3 linked regions of the Homo sapiens genome follow. The protein of the gene in region 2 purifies or fractionates together with the protein of the main gene of each other region. This does not show direct contact. Each region holds a gene or a part of one and is shown on either strand. Other genes may lie near its edges.

Region 1 (7,850 bases), on a different chromosome or scaffold from region 2:
ATCTGTTTATTCCTCAATCACCTCCACCACCCCTTTTGACTCCCCCCCCCCATACATAGACACTTCTGCCTTATTCTATCTCTGTTCTCCTCCAGCAAGTTCCTTGCCTGCTTTTACTTATCGTGATGATTTTAATTCCCTTGCCTAATTTTTAAAGGCTTTTCCCCATGATTACAGGTAGATACCATGAAAGGATAGGCCAGGCCGAGACCTCACCCTGAAGGTAAAGTGGGTGTGGGAGGCAGAACAGTGCCTCCCCCAATGTCCACATCACAATCCCCAGAAGCTGTGAATATGTGGGTTACATGGCAAAAGGGAATTAAGCTGCCTGTGGGCCAGGTGCGGTGGCTCACGCCTGTAATCCCAGCACTTTTGGAGGCCAAAGCGGGAGGATCACTTGAGCCCAGGAGTTCAAGACTTCCCTGAGCAACATAGGGAAACACCATCTCTACAAAAAATAAAATTTGAAGGGCGTTGTGGCACGTGCCTGTAGTCCCAGCTACTCAGGAGGCTGAAGCAGAAGGATCACTTGAGCCCAGTTGTTGTTAAGGCTGCAGTGAGCCATGATTGCTCCACTGTACCCCAGCCTGGGCAACAGACTGAAACCCTGTCTCAAAAAAAAAAAAAAAAGAAAAAAAAGTTGCAGATGGAATTCAGGAAGTTAATCTGCTGACCTTAAAATAGGGAGAGTGTCCTGGTTTATCCAGGTGGGTCCAATGTCATCGCAAACGTTTATAAGAGTGGAAGCAGGAGGCAGAAAGGGTCAGAGTGGGCAGGGTGTGGTGGCTCATGTCTGTAATCCCACCATTTTGGGAGGCCAAGGCAGGAGGATCACTTGAGCGCAGGAGTTGGAGACTAGCCTGGACAACAGCGAGACCCCATCTTTACAAAAAATAGAAAAATTAGCCGAGCATGGTACTACATGCCTGTAGTCCCAGCTACTTGGGAGGCTGAGATGGAAGGATCATTTGAGCCCTGGAGGTCAAGGGTGCAGTGAGCCATAATCATGTCACTGCACTTCAGCCTGGGCAACAGAGCAAGATCCTGTCTCAGAAAAATAAAAGAAGAGGTCAAAGTGAAACAATGTGAGAGTGACTCACCCACTGTTGTTGGCTTTGAAGACAGAAGGGAGCCATGAACTCAGGAATGCAGGTGGCCTCTAGAAGCTGGGCAAGGCAAGGAAATGGATGCTCCCCCAAAGCCTCCAGAAAGGAACCCAGCCCTGCTGACACCTCGATTCTAGCCCAGGGAGACCTGAGTTAGACTCCTGCCCTCCAGAACTGGAAGATAACGCCCTTGTTTTAAGCCACTAAGTTTGTGGCAATTTGTTTTAGCAGCAATAGAAACGTAGTACAGTGGGTAAAACAGTGCTTCGGTGAGCTCACCCTTCTGCTTGCTCCCACACTAGACACCCATGTCCTCCTTGACCCAACATCTTTTGGGTCTTCAAACCCCACGGCGGGGCCTACCCAAGCCCACCTCCGTGGCTAGTGTCTAAGGCTGCTCTTCAAACACCCAGAACTTAAGGATGTAAAGCCACTCCCTTCTCCCCACCTCTTCCTGGTACCTCATACTAAGTGCTTCTTTCCTCTGGAACACTAAGATGGTGAACTGTAATTTTCTGTTTATACATTTGTCCCCCACACAGACTTCAAGTTCCTTACAAGCAAGTGAGCTATATCTTCCAGCTCCACCTAGCACAGGGCCTGACACAGAGAAGGTGCTTAGAAAAGGTTGCTGGATAAGTAAATGCATGATTTATATGTCCTAGATGCCAAGTTAGAACTGGTAACTTACTAGACTATTCCAATGAAAGATAGAGTCCCTCTCCCACCCTTCTGTGTGTCTCCACCATGGGGCAGCCCCCTCATTTGCCTCAATGGAAAGCCAGTTCTGTTTCTCTTCCAAAAACATGGTCTCTTCTGTGATCATACATGTGACACAGGAGGGGTCAAACAAAGAGAAGATATTGTTGTTGGTCTCCTGAGTACACCTAAACCAATGATCTGCAAAATGAATTGATTAATGATCAGTTCAAATATGGTCCTTGGCAAAGGCACTGTATCTCAGAGCTACCGGATGCAAAGTCAGCCATGGTCAGGCCTAAGGGGGCTGGAGGACAGGTAGAAGGAGGCAGCAAGATATGCTCATCTCCCACCCCCTGCCTTCCCCTACCAACACTTCACACAGCCACATTTACCCTTCCAAAAGAGTGGATTATGCCACCCTCTCACTGGTCTCCCAGGGCCTGAAGGATAAAGTCCAGATTTGGCAGGCAAGTTCCTTGGCATATGGGCTCAGATCCCTTTCCAAACTCATAAGAGGCTATTGTTGCATTGCTATAAAGAAACATCTAGACTGGGTAATTTATAAGAAAAGAAGTTTAATTGGCTCACAGTTCTGCAGACTGTATAGGAAGCATAATGCTGACATCTGCTTCTAGGGAAGCCTCAGGAAGCTTACAATCATGGCGGAAGGCAAAGGGGGAGCAGGCACATCACATGGTAAAAGCAGGAGCGAGCAAGCGAGCGAGAGAGAGAGGTGGTGGGGAGGTGCCACACACTTTTAAATGACCAGATCTCATGAGAACTGGGATCCACCATGAGGGATCCACCACCATGATCCAAACACTTCCCACCAGGCCCAACTGCCAGCGCTGGGGATTACAATTCAACATGAGACTTGGGCAGGGACAAAAATCCAAACTATATCAAACCTCATCACCTCCAAAGTCCCATCAAGCACTGTCCCATTGAACTGCTTCCAGTTTACCACCCTCTAGGCCTTTGTTTTACATCAACAGATCCACACAACTGGCATTTTCTCTCCACCCACCCTAACCCTCAGCCAGTGAACATTCAATTTTGTTTTTTGTTGTTGTTGTTGTTTTGGGTTTTTTGAGACGGAGTTTAGCTCTTGTTGCCCAGGTTGGAGTGCAGTGGCACAATCTCGGCTCACTGCAACCTCCGCCTCCAAGGTTCAAGCGATTCTCCTGCCTCAGCCTCCCAAGTAGCTGAGATTATAGGCCTGCGCCATCATACCTGGCTACTTTTTTGTATTTAGTAGAGATGGGGTTTCACCATGTTGGCCTGACTGGTTTCGAACTCCTGACCTCAGGTGATACCCACCTCGGCCTCCCGAAGTGCTGGGATTACAGGCGTGAGCCACGGCGCCCGGGGAACCAATGAAAATGCTATTTCTCAGAACCTATCTCAGCTGCCGTCTCCTTCGGGAAGCTAAACTCCTTCCTAAGGAATGCATCGCTCCCTCAGCTGTTCATCCTGTAGGAATTTGGACTCTCTTAGTTCTTATCATAATACCTCAGTATGGCAGGTAGGAATCTCATCCTCACACACAGTTGTACATGAAATAGCACATTTCCTTAATTGTGATAAGTCACTTTGATTTTATCTTCCCTCATTCTCCTCTGCTGGCATGCTTCAAGGTTCTGAAGGCTCCCAGGATACTAACACCCTCCACGTGGATGTCTGAGCAGGAACCTGTCTGCAGATGCCTCAAGTCTGGGGCTCTCCATCGCTTCCCTGACACATCTGGAACTTGGGATTGACTCTTATGGTGGGAGGCAGAGCCTGTTCTTTCTCATTGCCTGGAAGGGGAAACCCGGCCCTGGCTGTCCCAGACCCCCAGACTTTTCTCAGCCTCCCATGAGAAGAACTCAGAGGCCAGGAGCGGTGGCTCACTCCTGTAATCCCAGCACTTTGGGAGGCTGAAGAGGGTGGATCACTGAGCCCAGGAGTTTGAGATCAGCCTGGGCAACACAGCAAAACCCAGTCTCTACAAAAAATACCAAAGATTAGCCGGGGGTGGTGGTGGGTCAGGTGATCCGTGGTGGGGGATCACCTGAGCCCTAGAAGTTGAGGCTGCAGTGAGTCGTGATCGCGCCACTGAACTCCAGCCTGGGCGACAAAGCAAGATCCTGTCTCAAAAAAAAAAAAAAAAATTATTCTCCATTCTCCACCTCCTACCCCAGCTCCCCAACACTCTGCCCTTTCCTCAAGCCCCCATCCTCTTCCTTGTTCTTTGGCAATAGATTTGTATAGCCCATTAAACCCGAGGTTTAATCACTAGCAACAGTAAAGCCAGCACTTTCCTAGAAGGAAGGAAGCATTTAATCTTCAATCTCTCCCTAGATATGAGGAGCACTACTTCCCTTCCATCCTTCCAGCTCTACGAGAAAGGAAAGAAAAACAGTGGCCGGGCGCCGTGGCTCACGCCTGTAATCCCAGCACTTTGGGAGGCTGAGGGGTGGGGGTGGGGTGGGTCACTTTAGGTCAGGAGTTCGAGACCAGCCTAGCCAACATGGCGAAACCCCGTCTCTACTAAAAATACAAAAATTAGCTGGGCTTGGCAGCGGGAGCCTGTAGTCCCTGCTACTCGGGACGCTGAGGCACGAGAGTCGCTTGAACCTGGGTGGCGGAAGTTACAGTGAGCTGAGATCGCGCTACTGCACTCCAGTCTGGGCGACAGAGCGCGGCCCTGGCAATCAATCAATCAATTGATCAATAAAGGAAAGAAAAACAGAAACAGTTCTACCAAGTCTCTCAATGCCGTGGCCTTCACATCGACGCTCAATGAACGTTCTCAGAAGGGAATCTCCTCTCCTCCCGGCCTCTTCGCCTGGGCGGGGGCCGCAGGCTGCCGCGGAAGCCTCTTCCCGATGCTCTTCGCTCAGGAGAGCCCGGCCCAGGAGAGGGACTACAAGTCCCAGGCTGCCTTGCGGCGGGCGCCGGGCGCCGGGCGCGCGGTCCTGCGAGGAGACGTGGCAGAGTGCGGCGCGCTCGCGCCGGACCGGAAAGCCGGGGAAGTGGCCGAGGAGGGAGGGCTGCGAGCCATGGCGACCAAGACGGCGGGCGTGGGGCGGTGGGAGGTAGTGAAGAAGGGTCGGCGGCCTGGGGTCGGCGCCGGCGCCGGCGGCCGAGGAGGCGGCAGGAACCGCAGGGCGCTCGGGGAAGCAAACGGAGTGTGGAAATACGACCTGACCCGTGAGTACCCGCCCTGCCCCGCCGCCTACCCCAGGCCTGTCCGGCAGGGTCGCAGCGAGCGGCTCCCAGAACCTGGGCGCGAGCTCGCAGGCACATCCCCGAGCGCCACGCTTGCGTTGTCTCTTTGGAGCCTCACGGGAGGCAGACAGCTCCAGGGAAGGTTGCGGTCCTCACCTCCCAGATGAGTAAACTGAGGCCCAGTGAAGTTGGATACCTTGGCCAGGGTCATGTGTCAGAGGGGCTAGGATTCCGGTCCTCAGACTCTCAGTTCACTGCACACACTCTCCCAGCTGCCCAGGGCCCTAGCTGGTCTCTCTGGGCAGGTGTCTGAGCTTTGAAGAGGTACTGTGGATCATTATACACGGTGCCCCCTCTTTAAGTAACCAGCAGGTCATGGAGGAAGGGACAGGAGGCCCAGCAGTGGGAGAAATGACCGCCACACACTCAACACTCACCAGGAATTATAAGTGACACCTGGTTCTTCCACTGAGGAGTGGAGAAAGATTGCCACTTGTTGATTATAGAGTTGTCATGTCGGAACCAAGAGGCGTTAGGGTAGGACCAAGATGGAAAAAGCTTGTCTTCCCAGACTAGTAGCCACTCACTGAATAAGGCAAACCTCTATATCCAACCTCTCTGCTTGTTCCTACATACTCTGATTTGTCTAATGAAGAACTGCCCCATCTTTATGAAAGAGCCCATAGACTCAAGAGCTGTAATGAAAGAAGCTACCAGGAGAACAGCCTGCCCTGCTCCTTAAGCAGTCCAAGAGGAAGGGGCTTTGAGACAGGCTCTTCCCTGGAGATGAATTAGGTGGCAGTGTGGGGAAAGGGACCACTGATAGGTGAGGCCTTGGGGACTCAAGGGTGGCCTGCCTTTCTCTACCTATCTTCACCCCAGCTGCAATCCAGACCACAAGCACCCTTTATGAGCGGGGCTTTGAGAATATCATGAAGCGGCAGAATAAGGAGCAGGTCCCACCCCCTGCTGTGGAACCTAAGAAACCAGGGAACAAGAAGCAGCCAAAGAAGGTGGCAACTCCTCCCAACCAAAACCAGAAGCAGGGCCGCTTCCGCAGCCTGGAGGAAGCACTGAAAGCTGTGAGTGTGCCTAGACATGAGACGCAGAAAGAATGGGGGCTTGAGATTTAGAGAAGATGAGAGGAGGGGGAGGTGGATGGGCAGCTGAGATCCTATGGGATTTGAAACACTTTAAGGGTTGAGAGGAGTTCAGGAAAAGATGGAAACCCCAGGGGAACAGAATGCCTGCACTTAGAATAGAAAGGAAATGGAAAATTTATAGGGAAACATGGATTGGTAAGAGGAAAGCCTTGAAGACCCAGGAACACCAGGGAGGAGATGGAGAAACTGGTTATGATTCTCTGTCCTATGGAAATACTGATCTTTCATTTTCTGTCTTGTCCTCTGTTTTCCTCTTTTTTTTTTTTTTTTTTTGAGTTAGAGTCTCCCTCTGTCGCCCAGGCTGGTGTGCAGTGGTGTGATCTCAGCTCACTGCAACCTCTGTCTCCTGCCTCAGCCTCCCAAGCAGCTGGGATTACAGGCGTCTGCCACCACGCCTGGCTAATTTTTGTATTTTTAGTAGAGATGGGGTTTCACTACGTTGGCCAGGCTGGTCTTGAACTCCTGACCTCAGGTGATCCGCCCACCTTGGCCTCCCAAAGTGCTGGGATTACAGGCGTGAGCCACCGCGCCTGGCCCTCTGTTTTCCTCTTGAACATGTGGAGGGCCTGAGAGGATAGGGCCTGAGATCAGCATTTTCAGCTGTCCTGTTCCATTCTTAAAGATGTAGGTACAGCAGAATTGCAGCATTCCATGTTCTTATGCTTAAAAATGGAATCCCTTCTTCCTACTGCCACCTAGTTCAACCATTTTCCCACCCCTACCCCATTTCTTTACTCCCTCACTCACAACTCGCCATGGTGGGGGGTTGGGGGATTGTCCCTGGCAGCTGGATGTGGCAGACCTGCAGAAGGAACTGGACAAGAGCCAGAGTGTGTTCTCTGGAAACCCATCCATATGGTTGAAGGACCTGGCCAGCTATCTCAACTACAAGCTACAAGCTCCTCTAAGTGAACCCACGCTGAGCCAGCATACTCATGGTAAGTCCTTCCAGCTTCCTCAAGCTCAGACAAGTTCAAATAAATTCAAAAAGGGTGGTATAACAGATCCCAGTGCCCCACACTGTCCTGATTTCCATGGGTGATTTGGGCTGGTCTCAAATCATCGTGACTGTGAATGTTTCTGGGCCTCATTCTGTGATCCTCCCTCTGGGCCTCCTCAGAGGAAGGATCCCAGCCTCAGTGCAGGGGCCTTTGCCTCCACTCACCATTCCCAGGGAGAGCACCACAGTTCTCAGAGCTGATGGGTGTCTGGTCCTAGCACTCACATTGAGGCCTATGGGCCTTAGATTATCCCTACAGCCTGGTGAGCCGGGAGCTACGTGGGATCATCCGAGGGCTGCTGGCGAAGGCAGCAGGGTCTCTGGAGCTCTTTTTTGACCACTGTCTGTTCACCATGTTGCAAGAGCTGGATAAGACACCAGGTGAAAGGGGCACGGGAGGGATGACCATCTTGGGAGCCTCCTCCTTTTTTTCCTGCTTCCAGTACCACTCAGTGGTTCTGTTTCCAGCAGAGAAATGTGCTAACCTTAACACTTTTTGGAAAGTGTGGAGGAAGTTAGGAGTCAGTGGACCTGGGGCCTGGGCTCACCGCTGACAAATGGGAGATTTCAGGTTTGGGATGCCAAATAATGTGAGTAGGTGTGAGAATGTGTATCTCTCCAGGGGAGTCACTACATGGTTACCGCATCTGTATCCAGGCCATCCTG
Region 2 (7,558 bases):
GCCTTTTCCCTCTCTGCCAATGCTGTCAACAATACCGGGAAATTCCATCCATGGGGGCCATGCCCAGAAGACACAGAGATCCTCTTCTGGCTTGCCTTTCCTCCTGCTGCTTGCATTGCTTCTCTGCAAAGTGGACTAACTGCCTGTGACAACAGAGACATCTCACCCTACAGGGACCCTTGGGGGCTGTGTGCATCCACTATCCATCACCTGTGCAGCCAGGATCTTAGCAGAGAAGTCCTTCCAATATTCCTTTGAGAGCCACCTTGCCAGTGACACCTTTAATGCTAACGTCTACCCAAACACTGTGATGTGTGGGAACAGTGGCATGATGGGAAGGGAACGGTGGCATGACGGGAAGGGCACTGGGAGCACACTGGGAGTTTCCACTTCAAATTCACAAAGACCTTATTTGCCTGCAAGGTCCAGGGAATTGCTCTGGCCCTCTCTGGGGTGAGCCACCCCATTCTGATTTCTGTCAAATGGGAACATAAATCTCACCTTTGTTACCTTGTAGGATTTTGCAAAAATCAAGAGAAACTGTACTGCATCCATAATGCAACAATACCAGTTTCCAAAAACCAGTGATGGAAACTATGAAGGTGTGAAATTACCTCTCTGTAAAGTACTGCTTCCATTTATTTTCCACTTTAAATATTGCAAGCACTTTTAATCAACGAGGCGCCGGGAGCAGAGGCCAGCACATCTGCCAAACGTAAAAACTACTAAGGGAATCATTGCACAGATTTCTACTCACCTTTGCTCATGGTCAGGTACCCCTGGTAATGACAGACACTAAACAGAGCCACACAGAGCCATCTGCAGGGTAATTACTCACCAGCTGCTGTTCCAAGGGAGGGACTGCATCATGGTGGCCGTATATTATGCCAGGATTGTACTGACTGAAAAGAACTGGATAAAATACCTTCTTCCCTACAAACCAGAAAACAAACATTCACTTAAAGTGACAGATCCAAGTAGTAGGTTTGTTCCTTGACATTTGGCCCTCTGAAACACCCCAGATATTTGCACCCACTTTTTTTTTCTTTGAGAGGCAGTCTCACTGTCACCCAGGCTGCAATAGAGTGGCACAATCTTGGCTCATTGCAATCTCTGCCTCCTGGGTTCAAGTGATTCTACTGCCTCAGCCTCTTGAGTAGCTGAGATTACAGGTGCCCGCCACCACACCCGGCCAATTTTTTTATTTTAGTAGAGATGGGGTTTCACCATGTTGGTCAGGCTGGTCTCAAACTCCTGATCTCAAATGATCCACCCGCCTCGGCCTCCCAAAGTGCTGGGATTACAGGCATGAGCCACTGCGCCCGGCCTGCAGCCACTTTTCCTTTTCCCTTGACTCAACTCTAAAATGGGTCTTAGAAGTGCAGCACCAAGTGGACCAGACAGTCATATCTGCAAATATTTCTGATCTCCCAGCGCAGGAATGATATTTGGAATACTGACAGACCATGACCAAGCACTGGGCATCACGCCTTGGGAGGGGGTGTGAAAGAGAGTCCTGGTGCCCCAGCCCCGCCAAACATTAACCCTTTACTTGCTGGCTCATGGGATCATCTTAAATGGTTGACTTTGGGTCAGGGTGACTTTGGGCAGTTGGACTAGACTTAGAGTGTCCAGGGTGGTTGCTCTTTATCAATTTACACAAAAGAATTTCTGTATTTTAGCAACTGGCATGGCTGTGCCAGTGTTCATCAGCTCAATAGCAGCCTTGCCTATGAGTGGAGTCTGTGAAAGTCATTTTAGTACTGTGGGTTCTTTGTGCGAATAGCTCTTCTACCCTAGGTAACTGCCCAAAGGTACTCCTTTCTCTTTAGGGTTGGCAGTTTTCCAGCTCCACCTCCTCCCCACCTCGCTTTCTCCTGGGAATGTTCATGAAAGCTGACCTCCCAGTTGCAGACGGAAGAGGGGTTATGGACATGAACTTGGGAAAAGAGTCCCAGAATTATGGTGGCTGACAGGCCCATGATGTGGCCTCAAAGGAGAAGTCAAACCAGATGGTGACGTGGTTTGGCTGTGTCCCCACCCAAATCTCATCTTGAATTGTAGCTCCCATAATCCCCAGATATCCTGGAAGGGACCTGGTGGGAGGTAACTGAATGATGGGGACAGGTTTTCCCATGCTGTACTCATGATAGTAAATAAGTCTCAAGAGATTTGATGGTTTTGTACATGGGAGTTCCCTTACACACACTGTCTCGCCTGCTGCCATGATAGACTTCCCTTTGCTCCTCCTTCACCTTCTTCCATGATTGTGAGGCCTCCCCAGCCATGCAGAACTATGAGTCCATTAAACCTCTTTCCTTTATAAATTACCCAGTCTCAGGTGTGTCTTTATTAGCCGCGTGAGAACAGACTAATACAGATGGTTTTCCTTTTCTTTGCTATTGAAGTAAAACAGGCTGATTCAGAAGCAGGACATCAGAGTGACTGACCCATCAAGAGGACGACACATGGGCCCGAGAGGGCTGGGGGCCACCTGAGCGTGACAGAGAGATGATCCATACCTGGCTGTGTATTCAGCCTACACGTATTGAGGAATTCAGATGTGAAGTAGATGTCCACATCACAGAAAAAGAGAAGGACGTTGCTTCCCTTCCAGAAGCGGGCTCCAACATCAAGTCCCTTTCCCCGAGAAAATTCTCCATTCAGCTGGATGAAGGTAAAGTTCCTGAAGTTGGCAGCTCTGAAAGGCAAGACCAGGTACTGTCACTCACATTCCCACATGTTGGCAGCATCCCCTGAGAAAATATGTAATCAGGGCCCATCCACATCTTGACCCATTTCTTTTGTAACCTGAGGGCACTGGGACTCCCCAAGAAGTTACAGAACGGCCCAGACTCACAGGATACTCACTGGGATCGAAGGTACCAAGAACACCTAGTGGAGTTTTAACACTAATTTCTTCCTTGTTTCTCTGGCAGTTTCCCCGTATTGAAAACACTCTTGTCATCATTAATGACTATTCTTTGTGATGGAGAAAACTTGAACCAGGTAAGACTAGAAACACAACCCTGGAAAATCTTCGTGCATCCTGAGCCAACCGAATGAGGCCACTGAGCCAAGGAAATAAGATCACATTGCAATGGCCCCACTTAGCATCTTTTCATCTGCATTCACATCCAGGAGCCAGGCAAAATGTTCTTGATGTGAATCTTTCCTCCAAACAGATTTAAACCCAGATTCCTTCCGCATCCTCGGGTAAAGCAGCACAGCATGGCAGGAAAAATGACCAACTTGCAGTTAGAAGAGGACTGTTTCAGGCCTGGCTCTCCTACAGATAGCTCTGTGATCTAGGCCAGCCCATGAATCTTCCTGAACCTCAGTTGCCTCATCTGCTAAATAGGTGTAGTAACACCTTCCTTCACTATCCCACAGGGTTATTAGTGAGATAAACAGTGCCAAGAGTATACAGCACTCTGTAAGCATCAGCTATTGCTGTGATTAGCATGGGCAAGGATTCCCAGGCCCCAGGCAGTGAAGCCAGGATGTTTCTCGCATTCGTTGTTCTTTCCCAGGGACAGCAGAACCTTCTGAAATGGGGCCTGTCTTAAGCTAACGTTCCACGAATTCATTCCATGCCCAGTGGGACAGGTATTGTCTTCTACCAGATAATACTAGAGAACCACCTTCAGTCTTCTTTCAGCCTAGCAAATCCCTTTTCCTGTCAACGACACCCTTCTTTTCCTAATGGCTTCCTTTCCTCTCACACTCCCCGTCCTACCAGCTACCTGGCCTATCCCCATGCCCCAACTTCTCTCTACTGTTTCTTTCCAAAAGGTACAGAAACTCATTTCCAGTTTGTAAAGTTTGCATTCCAAGTACCCGTCTCGGGTAAAGGCCAACGCAAACATAGAGTCATAAACTTTTAAAATGCTAAGTTGTATTTGTATCTGGAATTGAATCAGTAAAACTAGTTCTGCGACTCCCTCCTTGACTCATCTTCTTCTTTTGGATCTGGGAGTGAGCTTGGATTCTTATCTTAGGGATCAGTGAGCCCATGTCAGAGTTTGATGCCAAACATGCCTTTCAGATTTGGATCAGGTTAGGAGGCCTCATGATGGGTAGAGCACTGGTCTAGGAGTCTGGAAACCTGGATCCAGGACTAGAACTGTGCCTGGGGCCCCATAAGTGTTCAACAGATGTTTCTGAATGAGTGTATGAATGTATGAATCATTCTAAACCTAGCTGTGCCTCTGATGGATTTGAGGCAAGTCACTCTACCCCTTTTGTCTCTGTTTCCAGGTACAAAATCCAGTGGTTACAGAGCTCAAATTCCCCTTTACACACTAAGACGCTATTTTTCTTTGGTTAAAAAAACTTACTTTACATATGTACATTATATATACTTGTATATAATACACTTTTTCTTTTAGAGACAGGGTCTTGCTCTGTCACCCAGGCTGGAGTGCAGTGGCATGATCATAGCTCACTACAGCCTCAAACTCCTGGGCTCAAGCAATCCTCTTCTCTCAGCCAAGTCCCAAGTAGCTGGGACTACAAGTGCATGCTACCATGCCCAGCTAATTCTTAAAAATTTTTTATAGAGACAGAGTCTCACTTTGTTGCCCAACTCTTGGCTTCATGCGGTACTACTGCCTCGGCCTCCCAAAGTGCTAGGATTACAGGCATGAGATACCACACCTGGACAAGACTCTATTTTTCCTATGATCCTGCATTCACTTCAGCACCACTCTACATTTGCAGGGATTCTCTTCCTCTTTCAGAACTTTATCTTGAGTCTTTTCTCTGGGGGGGTGCCCCCATTGCACATTTTCTGTGTGTTGCATTGAAGTTATGCTCAAAACCTTTTCAGTATTAGGTATGGCACCAGTCAAGGACACGCTATCCTCCCGTCTCCAAAGACATTCAGATGGTGTGAGGTCACTGCGAGCACCTTCATGTCTCTTAGAGGTGTCTGCAGCCCCAGCTCCTGTAAGTCAGGTCAACCCATTTTTCCCTTCCCGGTTTGGTCAGTTTCCAGGAAAGGTTTACCCATGGGAGATGCCTGGATTTTTACCTGTTCATCTAAAGGCACCTGATCCTGGAGTCCATCTTGCTTTAACTTTCTATGTATTTAATATATACAGCCAGTAGCAATTCTCTTTCTTCGCTGTTTCCAGGTTCCTATCTTTTGGGACCTCTTCCTCCCCATTATACAGGGATATCTTCTAACTTTCAGAGCACAAACACAATGTATGAGCAAGTCCTTCCTCACTCAGGTTGCACCTGACTCATAATTCAGGTACCTTCTCCAGGAGGGTTTCTAGGATCTACTACAGGAGAGTTCAACTACAAAAATACCTGAACAACAGCAAGTGACTTTTGCCAAGGGAAGAAGAACATAGGCTCTTAATAGGCTGCATTAAATGAGCTGCGACATCAAGAATCTCCCCCTTGAACAGCCTACAGTCCATTTGTATAGATAGGCCAAATATTTACAAAAGTTAAATCATGTTGAGTAATTAAATAAGAATACAAGACAGTGTTAGAAACTGAGGAAACAGCATGAAAGAAATGACGAGTCTACAAGTGATTGATTAACTGCTGAGTGAACGGTAGAGACAGTGCTACAAATTTAGAGGGAAGAGTGGTAATTTGGTGGTGTGCATGCTTACCTAATGCACAAGTTAATCTAGTTTATTCTGTGCATGAATCCCCTAACCCTGGCTTGAGCTGTTGCTAATAAATGCTGTTCTCTCCTCTGCTGCAACAGAGGATTGGGTACAGGATGGGCTTCCTGTCATAGTCATGGGAAAAGGGGTGGGAAGAACTTAAGGTACCTAGTGTCTGACATGACCTTAATTTGGAAGAACTTTTTTTTTAAGCCTTAAAATGTAAATCCCTATGCTTCCATGATGTGTTGCTTCTAGAGAAAGAAAATTCAGGCAAATGGATGCTGGGGAACACTTTATATGGCCTAATGCAAAAGGCAATTTGCTTCCTTTCTCTTCATGCAACCTTTCTACAAGGAAAAGACAATGCATGTTATATCCATGGCACTACCCAATCTGAATATGCATTTTGAATTCACTTCATGTGTCCACAGGCTGCACAGAAAGCCCTGGGAAGTGGTACCCAGCTCTGTCCACGCACTGTTTCCATGTGGACCATATGGGGGCCGGCGCACACACACACAGCACCAGACACCTCGGCTTGCCTGTTCTCCCTGCCCCACGCAGGACTCTGCCCTGATCTAGCTTTGCCTGGGACTTTCATCCACCCTGATCAACACTGGCCAGAAGGCAACATTGCTGGCTTGGCAGTATGGGTCCATGTTAGAGCTGCTCTGAAGCCCTGACCACTCACCAGGTCCTGATGAGAGAGCTGAACATGAGTGTGCACAGAAGGCAGGGTGGGGACAGAGTCACTGCTGGCTTGGGAAGCACCATCAGGCAGTCACAGACACTGGAGAAGGCCCAGAGTGCTAACTCTGTCATCCATCTGTGTTTCCCAGGGTGGCTGCCAGGTCATTATGCTCAGCTAGGGGTCCGTCTGAGGATGAATAATGGTACAATTTTCCTTCCTGATTCCTCAACCCAAGGCTTTTTTCCAATAAACCAGTGATCTGAAAGAACCCCTCCAACTCCTCTCTTGCCATCAGGAAGAGCCTCTGATAATTACCAAGACCCTCTGCCAAAAAAGAGGACTGAACTGGAAAAACCATGAAAAAAAATCAAGACAACTTCCTGTCTTTGCCAAACCTCCTGGGCCTAGAAGTGGGGCAGCCTCCTCATCTGAAACTTACCAGTACTGGCCATGTGGGCTCTAGAACAGGATATGACAAGATGAGGAGGAATTGGCTTCTTCAAGTAGTCAGGCCACTTATCAATGCCCCATATCCTCATTTTGAAGCAGTGCTCATTGGGCAGGGACTCCATCACTAGACTAGAGTGCCCCCTGCTCAACAGTGGATTGAAAGGCAGCAGAACCATTCAAACACAATGACACACTTCAACTCAAATCACTGATGTGCCCAACGTAGTGTGATGGTGTGGTTTGGGAAGGTCCGCACCATGGCCATGAGGCTGCAGCCCCCAAATGCAGACTGTAGTGGTTGCCAGGCAGGCATGCTGCTTTATTCTCTGTCCTGCTTCCCCCCTTCCAAGTAACCAGCCAGGAGCAGATGATTCCGATTGTGAAAGAAAAATAGAATCTCAGGACCCCAAACTCACCATGCCAAAAGGAGAATTAAGCTTGAGAACTGAGTCACCAAGACTGTTCTCCTGACCAGGTGCAGTGGCTCATGCTTGTAATTCTAGCACTTTGGGAGGCCGAGACAGGCAGATCACTTGAGGTCAGGAGTTCGAGACTGAACTGACCAACATGGTGAAACCCCATTTCTATTAAAAATACAGAATTAGCCAGGCGTGGTGGTGGCGCCTGTAGTCCTCACTACTTGGGAGGCTGAGGCAGGAGAATCGCTTGAATCTGGGAAATGGAGGTTGCTGTGAGCCGAGATCGTGCCATTGTGCTCTAACTTGGGCAACAGAGCTACATTCCATCTCAAAAACACAAACAAACCAAAAAACCATTTTCCTGC
Region 3 (7,558 bases), on a different chromosome or scaffold from region 2:
ATTAAGAGGCCAAAGCAGCACGTCCACTTGCATTCATGAACACTGTCAGATGGCACAAAAGGAAGAGACGGTTTACAGGACAGTCCTGATGAGACAAGAAGGGTTTCATCCCCGTTAGCTTGCAAATCCGTGACTGTTAGCTGTGGGGCCTGGTGTCTTACCGAGGCCAAGGCCCATGAACTCTTCTCCTGCCAATGTGTGGCCCTTCAGGCTCCCTTCTCTTTCACGCCCAGATCCAGACAGGTAGCGCGTCTTCACACCGGTTCCTATCAGCTGAGCGAGCTCCAGCTGGCTGATGCATTTCAAGATCTAAGAGAAAGAAGGCATGAAGAAATGAGTTCCTACCTTACAGCTAGAAAAAGGGCACTGTAATCTTAAGTTAGTCATTAAAAAAAAGTTGGTTCAATGGAGTTATGCCATATAGATGTTTATGCAAATTTAGTAAGCTCTCAATAAAGAGAGAAAAAGCATTTGACTGGGGCGGCGGATTCCTCCCACCATGTCACTTAATAGGCACATCATTTAGTCACCCCCACCTCCTTTTTCCACCCTCCTCGTGAGACGACAAGACACCAGCCTCATTGGCCTCACTGTTGCTCCTTTAACTTGTCATCTCTTGTCCCACCTCAGGGCCTTGGCACTCACTGTTCCTTATGCCTGGAATGTTGTCTCCCCATGGCTCACTCCTTCAATTCCCAGCTCAGACATGTGTGTCCCTCTCAAAGAGATCTTTCTTGTGAGATCGTACCTTCCCATTACCATGTCCTGCTCATACTTTTTTTTTCTTAGTGCTTACCACTTTTTGGCATTATACCATATATCTATTTGTTTGTTTCCTGCCTTAGGTGCCAAGAGGGCATTAACTCTGTCTTGTTCACTGCTGAACACTTAAGTCCCTGGCACTTAAAGTTGTTGGCAATCGTTAATTGGTTTAACTGAAGGAATGAGAATATGCTCTACATCAGGCATGCAGTGGGAGATGAGGCTGGATCTCCTGGTCCTGAGGGGTGCCTCTGGTGCTTGAGAATGCAGATCTGCACACGGGCCCTCCTACCTGAAGCTCAGCTGTAGAAACAGAAACTGGTCCCAACTTCTGTCAGAGGAAACACTGGCTACATGAAACTTACCAAGGAATGGCACACAGACCTCCAGGGAAACCCTAAGGAATTTTCATGGGAACTTCTGACTGAACTTCAGTGTTGCTTTTTACGCTGACCTTACAACTCAGTCCCAGAGTCCAGGACTCCACTATACCACTGAGCACTGCCGAGTATCTTTACTTATAAATTGCTTTCTTCTTGACTGAGAAATAGACTTAATTCCACCAAAGAGAATCATCCCCTGATTTCTTCACACACTATTAAATTATTATTAGTAAGCTAGTAATGTCCTCCCTTTTGCAGAAGCTGGGGACAGCTGGAATCTCAAGTACGTCACCAATACTGAAAGGTCAAGGGCTTATTAGTTCCAAGCTGATTTCTCAGGGCTTCTGACAACCGCAGAGGTAGCTAATTAATTTTTAACATTTCTAGATTCTGCCATATACTTGGCTGGCAGCAGGAACCTCATATTGATAATACCTCCCAGGCTAAAAAAATGTTTTAGAAGAAAAAGCAACTATTCATTGATTCTCTACGTATTATGGCTCCTTAGAAGGCAGGAAATGATTTTAAAAAGCACACAATTCAAAATATATATTTTTTTATTTTAGAGATGAGGTCTTGCTCTGTTGCCCAGGCTGCAGCACAGTGGTGCAATCAAGGCTCACTACAGCCTTGAACTCCTGGGCTCAAGCAATCCTGCTGCCTCAGCCTCCTGAGTAGCTGGGACTACAGGCATGAACCACCATGCCTAGCTAATTAAAAAAATAATTTTTTTTTAAAGATATGGGGTCTTGCTATGTTGCCCAGGCTGGTCTGGAACTCCTGGCCTCAAGCCATCCTTCTGCCTCAACCTCCAAAAGTTCTGGGATTACAGGTGTGAGCCACTGTGCCCAGCCATAACTCAGTTATTTCTAACATGGACTACTCAGAGTTGTGACAGAGAGAGGAAAGGCTGGTGAAGAGGAGCAAAGCCATACGCCACGGAGATGACAGCAGGTAACACTATTGAGTTCTTATTACTTGCCAAATACAGTCCCAAGCCCTCTTCATTTTCATAACCACCCTGTGAAGATTGTAGAGATGAAGAAGGTGGGACTCGGTGACTAAGTAACCTGCCTGTGCCATCCAGGCAGGAAGAGGTGGAGCCCCAAATCAGACCCCAGTTGCCAGGCTCTAGAGCCTTTACTCTGAATCTGAGCCATGTGGTCCACATGGGGAAGAAGGATGACAGCAATTTTCTATGTCAAACTGTCCTTTACATTCTCCACAGCCTCATCTCTATTCTTTCACAGTTTTCTCTCTAAACAAAAAAGTAATACATGTAGATGGCAGAAAAAATTAGAAATTAAGAAAAAAAAGAATAAAACAGTTTCCATAATTCTATTTCTCAGACAGAATGTTAATGCTTTGGTCTATCCTTTCAAACTGCATTCTCTGTGTATTTTGCCACGAGAGACAATGCCTCACAATCTCTTATAACAACTTGTAATTTTACTGTGACCATTTTCCCACAATAGTCTTTAAAATCATCTTTTATCTTCTTTTCTGAAATCTCTTTTAATTCATAGGTAACCCTCCTCCCTTATTTTTCTTGCAATTTTTTTGCTGAAAAACCTGGTCATCTGCTCTGCAGGTCTGTCACACCTAGAATTTCCAAGCTGCACCCTCATATCTAACATGCTTCTCTGTCCACTGTATTTCCTGTAAACTGGCAATATAGGCTTGAATCAATTCAGATTTGAGTTGGGGCTAGAACATTTCTTAGGTAGTATTGTGTACTTCCATCAGAGAGCACATACTATCTGCCTGTCTTTTTTTTCCACAACATTATTTTAAATGGCCACATAACATTCTAAAAAATGCTGTACCATACTTTTTAAAAAAAGTAGCAATCTCTTATATTGTTGGGACATCTAGCTCTTTTTAACCCAAACTTTTCCCTAGAACAACTAAAACTGCAACAAATATCCTTTTAAATACATTGTTGTACACATAAGTAACTATATCCTTGGGTGAGAATCTTAGAATACTGTTTTAAAAACATGTGAATTCACTGGCACTCTCCCTAACAGCTCATTGTGACTATCAACCATTTCTAATCAGGCTCCTGGCTTTGTCTTAAAATTACACATTGATCACAGGAGCTCCCAAGCTCCCAAGAGGTACATAAGGACTAAAAAAAAAAAAAAAAATGGCACTAATATGGAAAGAAAGTTGCAACAACAGAAGTACACTTCATGGGGGACACTGGCTGCTGGGTGCAAGGGTGCTCACTGTGAGCTGGTGCGCCTGAACTCGCCCCCGCCTTTCACAGCCCCAGAGAGGGTGACTTCCAGATACATGAGGTACAGTGATTTGACTTCAAGAAAAACAGAACTGACCAAATGAGATCAACAATGAATAAAAGGAAGCCAGGAGTCATCCTAACTGAGAAAAGGCAATTCAAAGAGACACGTACCTCATGCCAGGAATTCCCAAGGTAGTTGCCATCGGTGTGAGCCACTGTGATAAGCGTCTTAATGGTGTCGATGTTTTTCTGCTTCATTTCTGTGATGCTGGAGCTGGCTGTGAGTAGGGAGAAGCGAGCAAGAGCCTGAACATAGGCATCTCGTTCCAGCTGTAACAGAAACCCAAGAGAGAACACTGTGACTCCAACCTTAGTGTGGCCATTCTCACATCTGCAGGGCTGGCACACTGGGCTTCTCTGATACTTTTTGTATGCACATTGACTGGCTTTCTGCACATTAGCACAACAGTTATTCCATGCTAATGCCCTCTTGCTTTTGGAACATCTTGCAGAGGTATCTATGCACTGCCACATGTTTGAGAAGCAGCTCTCTCCTTTCTAATTGACTTCAGTCAAACTCACCTGTCCCATGTTCCACTATGTCTGTTGAATACTAAGACTGTCACACAAATTGACATCTGCAACAATTCTGCCAGGCAGGTCTGTTTTCTCAAGTTTACAAATGAGGAAATGAATTGGTGTCTCAGAGAGACTTTAGCTGAGCCAATGTCACATGGTTGGAGAGGTGGCAGAGTGGGGTCTTGAAACCTAGATGGTCTAACGTCAAAGCTTGTGGTCTTGGTATAAAAGAAAATGTCTAACTGTAAAATGAATAGGAACAGAAGATTGAGTTTTTAAAAATAAATGGGGTGCAACTTCTGACTTACAAAGTGATGCATGGGATTGTCAACCTCCTAATTTCGTAACAGTTTCAGAATTACATTTCATTTATTTGCTTGAACTTTTCAAGTTTCAAAGGTTTACAGACATATTCATATTGCATTGAACTACTTGTTTCTCCAGGGAAGAGTTGGAAATATGCGAAATTATAATAAAAACTGATGTTAAAAAGGAAATAGTATTTTTAAGCACCAAAGCAGGCAAGTTAGGCAGATGAACACGAAGTCTGCTTTGTCAAATCCAGTCAAGAAGCTTGGACCCTACCTATTATTATTATTATTATTTTCTTTGAGATGGAGTTTCGTTCTTGTCACCCAGGCTGGAGTAAAATGGCGCGATCTCGGCTCACCGCAACCTCCACCTCCTGGGTTCAAGCCGGTCTCCTGCCTCAGCCTCCCGAGTAGCTGGGATTATAGGCATGTACCACCACACCCGGCTAATTTTATATTTTTAGTAGAGATGGGGTTTCTCCATGTTGGTTAGGCTGGTCTCGAACTCCCAACTTCAGGTGATCTGCCTGCCTTGGCCTCCCAAAGTGCTGGGATTACAGGCGTGAGCCACTGTGCCCAGCCTACCCATTCTTAAAGACAGTTTTAATCCGTATCTCCATTTTTGCCCCTAACGAGCTGTCATCACAAAGCTACGGATTTCTTGTCAGTAGGCATAAGTAAGTAGCTTGCTAAGAGTCTTGATTAACTGAAAATTTCTGATAATTTCTAAGTTTTGCCAAATCTAAAAGAGCACAACCCACCAGTATCTCTGGAGTGTTGCTGACTTACACCTACCTGCATTCCAAAGATGCAGGCGATTCGGATTGCACATCGGATGCCTTCCAAACACAAGGAGGCCACTTCAGTGTCATCACAGTTCTGGAGTCCGATGCTGTAGGCTGCCAATAGTGGCGTCCACACCAGCTATCATGGAAGGAAGATTTCAATAACATCCAGAGTTTTAGCGTGGAAAGAGTACTTCTCGCTGGCCAGCTTCAGAATCAGGCTTAGCCACATGCTTGCTAAGTTCTCAGGATACTCACTTTGAACATTGGCCGGACATGGTCCAGGTGAGTGGCACTGGTAAACGGGGCTTTGGCATGGCTCACAGCCTCCATCAGAGCTTTGGCTGTTTTAGCCATTTGCTCCATCTCTAAGTTGTACAGCAGCCGCCGCTGCTTTTCACTAGCTACATCTGTAAAGTAAGAGCATGATAGGTGTGGCTAGCAGTCACTGAGGGCTGGCTACATGCCATACACTGTTTCAAAAGATGCACAATGATTAACTCCTAAATCCTCCCAACCATCTCGTGAGTCCATTACAAATATTATTATTACCATTTTACAGATGGGAAAAATGAGGCAGAGGGGGTAAGTCACTTGCCCAGGGTCATACAATTACTAAGTAGAGGAGCTGGGACTTGATCTAAGGCAGTGTGGCTCTAGAGCCACACTCTAAACCACTACCCTTTGCTGCTTCTCAAACAGTGAAACTGACAGCTCCCCAGGGGCCATAACTAATAGAATTCTAATCAAGGCGGACACAATCTGAATTAAAGAAAAGTTTTAAAGAACACTTTTTGGGAGTAATTTAGTTCTCAGATTACTAATTTTAAATTCCTTCTTGCTCCTCATCAGAAATCTAGCAAGACAGTGACATTATAAAAGTCCCAACATAATCACAATAATTAATTCAATCACATTTCCTATTCAGATATCCAGCTATGCACATTAAATTTATCACCAGAGTATTTAATCATGCATTCTGATACACTAAAAAATTAGAACTAAAAGAAATAATTTGCCATTAGACCTTACTCTGCTTAGTAGATTTGGTTGCAATCGTTAGCTCTTTTGTTTCTTTCATTGCAATTTTCTTGCCTTCTATCTCTTCATAGATGCTTGAGAGATACTCTTCTGGCAGATCTTTACTATCATTGATACCCCGATTCATTTTAATATACTGCTCTTTCGTCATTTTATTTTTTACCTGTAATTAAAAAAAATTAAAAACCATTTAAAAAACATCCAATTGCCCAAGTAAAGCCACTTATTTAGCTAATACAACATGTAAATCATTAAAGTGCTTTACCTGAGGACTGTGCAAGTCTGTAGTCAGCATAATAATTGAATACGCTAGGACATAAGCAGTGTCAGCACTAGCAAACAGAGTTTGCCTGGAGAAAAAAATTCGAGACATCAATATTCATGGTGATGCGGTTTGGAAGGTACAATGCTAACAGAGACACACTTCACGAGAAAAGCAGCCGACTACTCCCCTTGATTCCAAATGAGGCAAGAGTTTTTACGCTTTCATCATCACTGAACAAGACTTAGCAACCCAGAGTGTAGAAAAAGCTCATTAACAATCTGTATCAAATTTTAGCTTCTTTGGCAGGGCGTGGTGGCTCAGGCCTGTAATCCCAGCACTTTGGGAGGCCGAGATGGGTGGATCACCTGAGGTCAGGAGTTCGAGACCAGCCTGGCCAACATGGTGAAACCCAATCTCTACTAAAAATACAAAAATTAGCTGGGCGTGGCAGCGGGTGCCCATAATCCCAGCTATTCGGGAGACTGAGGCAGGAGAATTGCCTGAACCCGGGAGGTGGAGGTTGCAGTGAGCTGAGATTGTGACACTGCACTCCAGCCTGGGTGACAGAGCGAGACTGTCTCAAAAATAAATAAATAAATAATAAAAATTGAGGCTTCTTTGAATAAAGCAATTTCAAATAATTTTTTTTAAAAAGACTCTAAGAAGCATCTGGGGCCAAGACTAGGGTGAAGCAAGTGAGCACATCAGGAGACCTTACACTTGGTGCTGACCCTGAGAGAGGGCATCTCACTATATTTCACACACTAAGCGCTTGAGTGCCTCCCCCACCTTGTCCTGTTCCTGAGAACATCTATTTTGTGCCATGTACTGTGCTAGACATGAGATATAAAGATGACTAAAACTGCTGTTTAGCTGTTATTTATAGTCTATATTACCCATTATAACATTTAATAGTAGAAATACCATGGAAAATATTTATGTTGTTCTAAACAATATGTTGGTGAAGTCTGACTTTTTTGCCTTAGGCAAGAAGAGAAGGACAACATGTGGATGTACAGCTTCATACGATATGAGGCTGAAGCTAGAAACTGTTCTGTCCAAACTGTCCATAACAGGAACAGTAGAAATTTTGAAGAACACAACAAAGGTCTTTTAATATGAGATGAAACTGGGTCACATATTTACTGACTGAGCAAAACAGACCAAGGCTCCCAGGTCCACATAGG

What was found.
Region 1: the proteins of CSGALNACT1 (region 2) and TMEM214 purify together in Homo sapiens (affinity purification with mass spectrometry; 3 studies listed by BioGRID and IntAct, with this or other methods). This does not show direct contact.
Region 3: the proteins of CSGALNACT1 (region 2) and ARFGEF2 purify together in Homo sapiens (affinity purification with mass spectrometry; 3 studies listed by BioGRID and IntAct, with this or other methods). This does not show direct contact.

The regions. Positions count from the first base shown.
Region 1 is NC_000002.12:27,028,164-27,036,013, forward strand, and holds the start of TMEM214 (transmembrane protein 214), read left to right. Parts: upstream 1-4,801; 5' UTR 4,802-4,852; coding exon 4,853-5,003; intron 5,004-5,903; coding exon 5,904-6,103; intron 6,104-6,971; coding exon 6,972-7,122; intron 7,123-7,430; coding exon 7,431-7,565; intron 7,566-7,806; coding exon 7,807-7,850. UniProt on the Homo sapiens protein: Critical mediator, in cooperation with CASP4, of endoplasmic reticulum-stress induced apoptosis. Required or the activation of CASP4 following endoplasmic reticulum stress.
Region 2 is NC_000008.11:19,417,818-19,425,375, forward strand, and holds part of CSGALNACT1 (chondroitin sulfate N-acetylgalactosaminyltransferase 1), read right to left. Parts: intron 2,702-7,558; coding exon 2,523-2,701; intron 934-2,522; coding exon 839-933; intron 1-838. UniProt on the Homo sapiens protein: Transfers 1,4-N-acetylgalactosamine (GalNAc) from UDP-GalNAc to the non-reducing end of glucuronic acid (GlcUA). Required for addition of the first GalNAc to the core tetrasaccharide linker and for elongation of chondroitin chains.
Region 3 is NC_000020.11:48,987,202-48,994,759, reverse strand, and holds part of ARFGEF2 (brefeldin A-inhibited guanine nucleotide-exchange protein 2), read right to left. Parts: intron 6,457-7,558; coding exon 6,372-6,456; intron 6,270-6,371; coding exon 6,098-6,269; intron 5,476-6,097; coding exon 5,324-5,475; intron 5,205-5,323; coding exon 5,076-5,204; intron 3,721-5,075; coding exon 3,562-3,720; intron 310-3,561; coding exon 162-309; intron 1-161. UniProt on the Homo sapiens protein: Promotes guanine-nucleotide exchange on ARF1 and ARF3 and to a lower extent on ARF5 and ARF6. Promotes the activation of ARF1/ARF5/ARF6 through replacement of GDP with GTP. Involved in the regulation of Golgi vesicular transport.